Regions from separate parts of the Homo sapiens genome. Here region 2 is linked to region 1. The links come from fine-mapping of genetic effects on gene expression. A gene starts in region 1. The other region holds a variant in brackets. All regions are shown on one strand. Distances are between the middles of the regions. Region 1 holds the start of ENO4 (enolase 4). Region 2 has its middle 32 kb from the start of PDZD8.

Region 1 (4,387 bases):
GGAGTCTCGCTCTGTTGCCGAGGCTGGAGTGCAGTGGTGCAATCTCGGCTCACTGCAACCTCCGATTCCCAGGTTCAAGGAGTTTGCTTTTTTGCCTCTGCAATTCCTGAACATCCTTCGAAGTCCAAGCCAAAGCCTTCCTGGATATACAGCCTCCAAGGATCTTTTCCATCCCTGAATTCCTTTAATAGGCATATAGGGATCTGCCCCTCAATCTAGCACACAGTCATCTATCACCTTATCTTTTGCTCCAATTATTTTATGTATTAGTGACTTTTGTCCCAAACTAAGATGTAAGTTCCCAGAGAGCTGTACAAACGAATATCCTGGCTGCCTAATAGAATAAGAAGATCATTATACTGGGGAACAAGAGTCCATGTTTTTAGTCCTAGCTTGTACACTAAGTAGCTGTGAGACAAAGACTTGGTGTCCCTGTAAAATGAGGACGTTAGAATAGATTGTGTTCAAGAATTCCTCTAGCAACAGATAGTAGGAAGAGAATGGAATGAGAGTCAAGCATTCACTCATTCATCCTGCAGGTAGTTTCTCAGCATCCACTGTGTGCCATGCACTCTGCTGGGTACTAGGGACACAAATGTGGTTTGATTTTTTTTCTTCTGTCACTATGTCCTTTGGGAAAATCATTTAAATTGCACTGGCCACAGGTTCTTTATTTGTAAAATGGGAATCATCATTTTTACCTCGTCGCAGTGGTACTGAGGATTGAGTTACAGTACGCAGCACAAGGGGCTCAGTAAACCCCACACCTCTCCCCTTTGATAGTATAGGCCATGAGTGGGAAAAAGTCATTCGCGGAACATCCTTTATATCAACTGCCTCAATACGACGTGGTTTTGCACCCTGACAGCACATCTGCCTCTTCATAGGACTCCTTCTGCTTGGTGTTCACATTGCCTCCTTGCTTTGCCTTGCCATAGTGCAAACTCCTAGGGGCCCCAGCCACACTGCCTTCCTTACTACTTATAGATCTGGAAGGGAGAAAACGTCTTTGCTTCAGCTGCTCACTGCTTAACGCTAAGGTATGTGCCAGATCTCAGGGCTGGGCAGAGACCCGGAAGGTGAGAAGACAAGGCTTCTGAGCCCAGCAGGGGCTCACAGGCTGCCTAGGGAGGCTGCCTCAAGAGACTACAATACACGAAGGAAATGCTGTAGGAACCCAGAAGGACGGTTGGTCCAGGGCTACGTGGGCAAGGCTTTGGTCTGAATTTTGGAGTTTAGGGCGGGGCTGGTCAGATATTAACTGGCATCCCGGCAGAGGAGCCAGTAGGATGAGGCCCCAGAATAGGCTGAAGCCAAGTTGTAGCAAACGCCAAGGTGTTCATCCTGTGATCAAAGAGGAGCTGCTTAAGGTCGGTGAGCTGAGCTGAGGGCATTAAGGTATGTGTTAAAAATGACAATTGGCAAGCATGGGCGGTGGGCCGGCCCACAAACGGAGAGGCCTCTTAGGCAGCGAGGAAGCCTGCCAGCCCCTGGGCTGCCGCTGCAGGTCAAATACGCCTAGCGCCCTCTTTCCTCCAGCTGCCTCCTTTCTGCCACTTTCTCTGGGGAGATCCCTTCACCCCTGGGTGTCCTTCCCGCTCCTTCCCTCCAGAAGTCTCCTCCGCACACGCAGGCCCAGGGCCCGGGCGGCTGGCATGCGAGATTCTGAGGCGCAGGCGCAGGCGCAAGGCGTTGCCGCAGCGCGGGGCGGGGGGAGAGGGGTTGGCGGGAGGAGAGCGCTTGTCCCAGGTCCCTACCAGGTGCCCGTAGACGTCGGCAGGCTGGAGGTAGAAGGTGGAGTTGAGCAGCTCTTCCAGCCTGCGCGGAACGTCGTTCTCCCGGTAGTACTCCATCGCCTGCTGCTTCAGCTTCTGCAGCTCCCTAGTGGTCCCACAGCTGCGGCCGCCGCCTTCTTCCTCCATGGTAGGAGATTTAAGGCTACAGCGGGGTTTAGCCTGGGGTCCCACGAGCGTCCCTGCTGTCGCTAGGCAACGCAACGTGATCCCGACCCCCAGATCTCGCGTGGCTTCCAGGCCTAGGTTCTTCCTGCGGTAAAAGTCGTTCCCTTTTATTGGAGCTAGGATGGTATTTGCGCTCGCTGCTCTGTCTTTTCTCCCTGCGGCATTAGGTCCGGGGGTTGGGCTCCTCCTAGACTCCCGAGACTAGGGCCCTCCCGGCTTCGTTTTTCACCACTTTTCCCTGGCGATTTTCCAGAGGGGGAAATCTTTAACGACCTCATCAAGCGCGTTTTGCCGGAGCGCGGCAGCCTTAGCTCCGAATTCCGGCTGGGGTCGCGCGCTCGGGTCCCAGTGGCCCAGCGTCTTGGGCCACCCCGCCCTCCCCACGCGCCCCCTTGCTCTCTGCTGTTAGTGAGCTCCTCCGGGTTGCTAAGGCCGCCCGTGCCAGGCAGGCCCACTCTGTTGGGGGAGGGATGTAGGGGCTCAGGGCATCCTTACTGAGCGGTGGCGATCTCAGGAATTCTTTCATTCGGCTCATGTTTATTAACTACCTGCTCTGAGCCGAGCCGTGTGCTGGCTGGGCCTGCTATGATGTCCAGGAGAGAAACGGCCACTTGCCCTTCTCTGGGATATTAGTGGGGGTGAAATCAATGGAATGAAAAAAACCAGTGTGGGTTGAAAATATCTGGGGTGAACCCTAAGGGATGGTTGTGGTTTGGGCAGACCTAAGGATGGGGGATGATTCAGGCAGGACTTGGGGAGGTAAAACGGAAATGGGGGAATGGCCTTGGCTCACGTTCCCTCTCCAGAATGCTGCCTATGTCCTTGCCCTTTTCAATCCGAAGTGCCTTCCTGGCTTCATTGTACCTGCCAGGTATCATGCGATTACAGAACTTAGTGTGCGTCCTCAGTTCTAGATACTTCCTCTGCTGCAGGAGTGGGCGGCGACGGACAGGGTGTTCTTGTTCCACTCACGCCTGTTTATGTTTCCTACCTAAGCAGATCAGTTACAAGATCTGTGCCACACTTTCCCCCCTCTGGAAAACATCATCTTACCTCCTCTGCCTGTTTCCCGAGTCACTTAGTACAAAATGAGGAAGTGAGTGAGAAAGCACTTTGAAACACAGTTATTTTCAATACATGCACGTATGGGTGCAGATGCATAAAAATGTGATGCTATAAGTACTGTTACACAAACCCAGACATGCACCTTCCAAACTTCCTCCGTGTTCTCTCTGCTCTCTTACGGAACGTCTCACTGTCTGTGTGTAATGGACCATCATGAACCTGCCTTCTCTCCTTGCTAGATGGAAATCCCCTGACGGTAGAATCTGAGTCTGTGTTACCTTCACATCCACCACGGAGCCTGGGGCCCTGCAAGGGCAGAGGATGTGCTCTGCTGAATAGGTGTTGAGTGAACCCTTATGCAAAATAAGCTGACACTATTGCTGCTGTTTCCATTTCACCTTTTTGCCTTTCCTCATACACCCCTGGAAGAAAGGCACCTGCTTCTCTCCTATGTTCATCCTTGAGTGCCTGGGTTGAGTCCCACATCAAAGAAGCCACGTCCACAATCCAGCTCTCACTCCAGCCAGCCCTTCCTTCTGAACTCTTTCCCCATTTGCAGCCTGGACCACAAAGTTCAGCCCTCAGGGATGTCTTGATTCATTTGACATCTCAATGGAAGATTGCGAGTATCCTGGGCTGGGACCACCATGTCTTAAGAGTCTCCCCCTATAACCCTATAACCCATTTGCCTCAGTTCCAGGAGGACAGCGACTTGATTTGTCTTGTTCGCCACTGTGTCTGCAGCATCATTACATTACCTGATGGAATAGCTGCTCAGTAAATATTTGTTGAGTGATTGAATGGGTTTTACACATAATAAATGGTTAATAAGTACTTAACTCACAATCAGATGTTTTGGAGGTGGGTGAGTAATGAGTACACCAACCTGGCTGGAGCAAAGGGTTTCTTTTCAGGAATAATGAGAAATAGGGTGGAAAAGTAGTTTGAGGTGAGATTATGAAGAAGCTGGAATCCCATTTTGTAAGAGAAGGAAGCAACCACAAATTTCTGAATATAGGAAGGGCAAGAAATAAGTGGGGTTTTAGGAAGTTAACTTGCAGCAGTGGGTAGCATTGATGGGTTTTTGTTATACAGAAAACAAGAGACAGAGGCAGAAAATAGTATATGTGCAAGGGCCTAAACACTGATGGCAACCATGGGAATTGATGAGTGAGAGAGAATAGGAAGGAGGGATGTAAAAGGCTTTGAGTGGTTGGATGTGGTGGAGTTGGGGAAGCAAAGATGGCTTTTGAGATTACCTTGTAGAATTCTGTGATAGTTAACGGAAATAGGATCAGTGCGTCATCTGGTTTTGATGGAGGCGATATGATGCATTGGGTGTTAGATGTGTAGAGCTTGAG
Region 2 (4,387 bases), 560 kb before region 1:
AAATATTATACCAATAGTAGTACACATTTGTTGTTTCAGGGAGAAGACTATAACAGATAAAAATCAATAATGTTTTTGTTCCAGTGGATTAACTTCATGCTTAGAACAGAAAGAAAATCTAAATGGATGGCTTTTCTGCTTTTTCCTTCTCAGTAATATGATGCGGTTATATCAAAGGGAAGAGTTGGCAGAGACAGAAAGTTAGAAGGCTAAGGACATTTTCTAAAGCAGGAAGGAAGATTTGAAAAGAAGGTTAGATTCTCCCTGACCTGTCAAGTTGGTGGCTGAATGGAACTTAGCTGGCTGGTTTTCTGCCCTTCAAAATTATCTTTGGCCCTCAAGTAGGAACTTCCAAGGGTATCTGACAGCAACAGATACCCTTGGACAAAGGCCTCCAGACACAAGAGCTCATCCCTTAGCAAGAGTTGATTGGACCAAGGTTGAGTGAGTTTCTCTCCCTGGAATTTGGAATCAGGCCACAGAGCCATATGCCTTTCTCTTAGGCACTTGAAATGGGATGTGAAGACAGGTCAGGTTCAAGGTGCCTGGACTGGCCCCATGAGTGAGGAACCAAAGAGAGCCAGCCTGCAGGCATAGAGAGAGAGAAATGACAAACGAGGAATGATCAGGTGTCATGACAGCCACCCCATTCCCAACTGTCTAGGTTCTGAGCCTTGTCCATTATGAGGCCAGCCTGAACTTCCTGTGCTTGGAATTCATAATATTCCCTCGAGTCCTCCTAGAAAGTGCCCTTCCTCCACCTTTTTGGTTCTCAAAGTTAGTTTAAGTGTGTTTCTGTTCCTTGTAAATTAGCTAACCACGGCTGTTGTAACAAACTGCCACAAACTGGGTGGCTTAGAACAACAGAAACTTATTATCTCACAGTTCTGGAGGCCGGAAGCCTGAAATCAAGGCATCAGAAGGCCATGCTCCCTCCTAAGCCTCTGTGGGAAGATTATTCTTTGCTTCCTCCAGCTTCTGGTGGCTCCAGATATTCCTTGGCTAGTGGCTGCACAACTCCAGTCCTGCCTCCATCTTCACATGACCGTCTCCTCTTGTCCCTGTGTCTTCTCCTCTCCTCTCTCATCACTTGTCATCTATTTAATCCAGGATGATCTAGATCCTTAACTATATCTGCAAAGACCCTTTTTCCAAATAATGTCACATTTATAGGGACCAGAAGTTAGGAGTTGGACATATCTTTCTGGAGGCCACCATTTAACTCACTATACCTTACAGCCCACTGGGCCCTAAGATGAGTTTACCGAATATTCCTGAGCAGCCTTGCAAAGTGTGAGTGATCAGCTGATGCACAGCCCACAATACGAACTGTTTATAGATTCTGAAGGATGATATGTGAATAAGGCAATTGGAGTTTTTTTTAATGGGAAAAGTGTTTTGTGGCATTTTGTTTTTGAATATTCTGGGATAGAGTGAAGCCTTGGTCTATCACATCTGAAGTCACACCTTCTCCAGTCTCTTTTGGATTGATGAGAATAATTATAATGTAATGGCCACTGTGATGTACTGCTAGGTGCCAGCTGCTGCACTTGGCTTTTTTTTGTTTGTTTGTTTTGAGTCAGAGTCTTGCTCTGTTGCCCAGGCTGCAGTGCAGTGGCAGGATCTCAGCTCACTGCAACTTCTGCCTCCAGGATTCAAGAGATTCTCCTGCCTCAGTCCCCTAAGTAGCTGGGACTACACGCATGCACCACCATGCTCAGCTAATTTTTGTATTTTTAGTGGAGATGTGGTGTCACCATGTTGGCCAGGCTGGTCTCGAACTCCTGACCTCAGGTGATCTGCCCACCTTGGCCTCCCAAAGTGCCGGGATTACAGATGTGAGCCACCACGCCCGGCCTGTACTAAGCTCTTTATATGGCATGTCACTTCGAATCTTTACCATGATCTTTTGATGGTGGGATTATTATCCCCAGGAGTCACACCCAAGTAGGTCAGTGCTTTAAGCCACCAGGATGGCCTTTTTCAAGATCTGGCATTTTGCGGGCTATGGATATTAAAAGAAGATCTAGTGCGGGCAGCACCGGCCAAGTGCCAGTCAATACATTTGGTGCACTATGTTTGTTATCTCACGTGATCTTTACAGCTCCTCCTTGAG[G/A]GAGACAGTGCAGAAATTAGAGGAAGGCCGATCCCACTAACCAAGGCTTCTCATGGATATAACCTGCTGAAGTCAGTGAGACAAAGTCTCAGATATTCCAGCTCCTGCAGGCCCAGGGGGATCAGCCCCTACAGATCTACTCCCAATAACTTAAAGAAACATGACACATGTGGACAACAGAATGGCAATTGGAAACTTAAGTTGACAAAGCACCCCTTGAATTGGAATGCTCTTCTTACTTGAGAAGCTGCCCATCTCACCTCCCAAGCTGTGAGTCTGGAAGGGAAGTGAAGTAAAGCAGCCCCCTAGAGAGAAAGCTTAAAGCTTCCCTAGGCAAGTTTTTCACCTTAGTAATTTTCCACCCCAACCCCAGAGAGGATTTCCTTTCAAAAGCCTCACACTGTACTCATAATTTCCCTCTTCCTACTAATTGCCAATAGTACTGCTTCCCCTCCTCCTCTCTCCCTAAGAGTTGAGGACACGGAGTTCAGATCAAAATTACAACCTTCCTTCCCCCTCCATTCCTCCTCATGTAGCTCCATCCACACAGTCATCCAAGTCAGCCACCTGGACGTCTTCCTCAGCTCCCCTCCGCCCTCTGCCCCAGAGCCATCGGGCATCAAGTCCTGCCTACCTATCCGCCTCTCAGTGACTTCCCCTCTCCCTAGCCCTCATTGCCCTGGATTAGGTTCCCAGCATCTCTCTCCTGGACTTGGTCAGGTCTCCCTGCCTCCATCATTCTTTGTTTTCGTTTGTTTTTGTTTGTTTGTTTGTTTTGTTTTGTTTTGTTTTGTTTGAGACGGAGTCTTACTCTGTCGCCCAGGCTGGAGTGCAGTGGCACAATCTCGACTCACTGCAAGCTCTGCCTCCCAGGTTCACGCTATTCTCCTTCCTCAGCCTCCCCAGTAGCTGGGACTACAGGCGCCCGCCACCACGCCCAGCTAATTTTTTGTATTTTTAGTAGAGATGGGGTTTCGCCATGTTAGCCAGGATGGTCTGGATCTCCTGACCTCGTGATCTGTCCGCCTCGGCCTCCCAAAGTGCTGGGATTACAGGCGTGAGACACCGCGTCTGGCCTGTTTTCATTTTTTTTTTTTTTTTTTTTTTTTTGAGATGGAGTCTCACTCTGTTGCCCAGGCTGGAGTGCAGTGGCACAATCTCGGCTAGCTGCAACCTCTGCCTCCTGGGTTCAACCATTTCTCATGCCTTGGCCACCTGAGTGGCTGGGATTACAAGTGCACACCACCACGCCTGGCTAATTTTTGTATTTTTAGTAGAGACAAGGTTTCACCATGTTGGCCAGGCTGATCTTGAACTCCTGGTCTCAAGTGATCCACCTGCCTCAACCTTCCAAAGTGCTGGGATTACAGGTGTAAGCCACCAAACCCAGCCCTCCATCAGTTCTTAATTTGATCTTGTTGTTTCTTTGCTTTTGTTTGCATCATTTTCTTTTACCTCCACACGGGGTCAGAGACCTGGCAGGAAGCCTCACGCAGCTTCTTTTACCGGCAAATGGCAAAAATCTCCATTCTGGCATTGCATAAGCCTCCAGCAGTGGTTTTCAAAATGTGTCCAGAGGAACCCCAGCTTCATGGTCCCTGTTGGAATTTTTTTTTTTTTTTTTTTTTTTTTTTTGGTGGAGTCTCACTCTGTTGCACAGGCTGGAGTGCAGTGGCATGATCTTGGCTCAACTGCAACCTCCACCTCCTGGGTTCAGGCGATTCTCTTGCCTCAGCCTCTGGAGTAGCTGGGATTACAGGCATACACCACCACACCGAGCTAATTTTTGTAGTTTTAATAGAGATGGGGCTTCACCCTGTTGGCCAGACTGGCCTTCATCTCCCAACCTCAAGTGACCCACATGCCTCGGCCTCTCAAAGTGCTGGAATTACAGGCGTGAACCACCATGCCCAGTCCCTGTTGGAATTTTGATTCCAGAAAAGAAATTCTGCCTGAGTTTTGAACAAATTGAGGACAAAGTATTTAGACAAATGGAAATAAAAATATCATCTTTATTACTGAAAAAGCTATATTAGAGGATGTGGCTTAGCTTTGGCCAAATAGCATGGTGACAATTCCCTGAATTAAACCACAGATGCCCTACACAGCACAAACATTCCTCCTTCTTGGAAGTGACTGCTTTGAGAGGCGGGTTCCCAGGTGTGGATAGAGAAATACGAATTAACATGCACACCCAGGGTTTAGACTTTTGTAAAAGTTGTCAGGCAGCATTTCTCAAAGCTTGCACCTTGGAACACTAACCTTAAGAAG

The links. PIP is the estimated chance that this variant, and not a neighbour inherited with it, causes the effect.
Region 2: its variant is the best candidate, but not a certain one, in a credible set for the expression of ENO4 in nasal epithelium (TOPMed, PIP 0.51).

What each region holds. Positions count from the first base shown.
Region 1 is chr10:116,847,102-116,851,488 of GRCh38, reverse strand. It overlaps ENO4 (enolase 4), which reads right to left and starts at 1,990. Exons shown (of 14, transcript NM_001242699.2): 1 at 1,758-1,990. The coding sequence starts at 1,922. It also overlaps a transcript of HSPA12A not described here. RefSeq lists an enhancer at 3,174-3,343.
Region 2 is chr10:117,405,164-117,409,550 of GRCh38, reverse strand. No RefSeq gene overlaps it. Among named protein-coding and RNA genes, the nearest start is that of PDZD8, 32 kb to the right of the region's middle. RefSeq lists a cis regulatory region at 246-604. The variant G/A (reference allele first, on the strand shown) is at 2,117.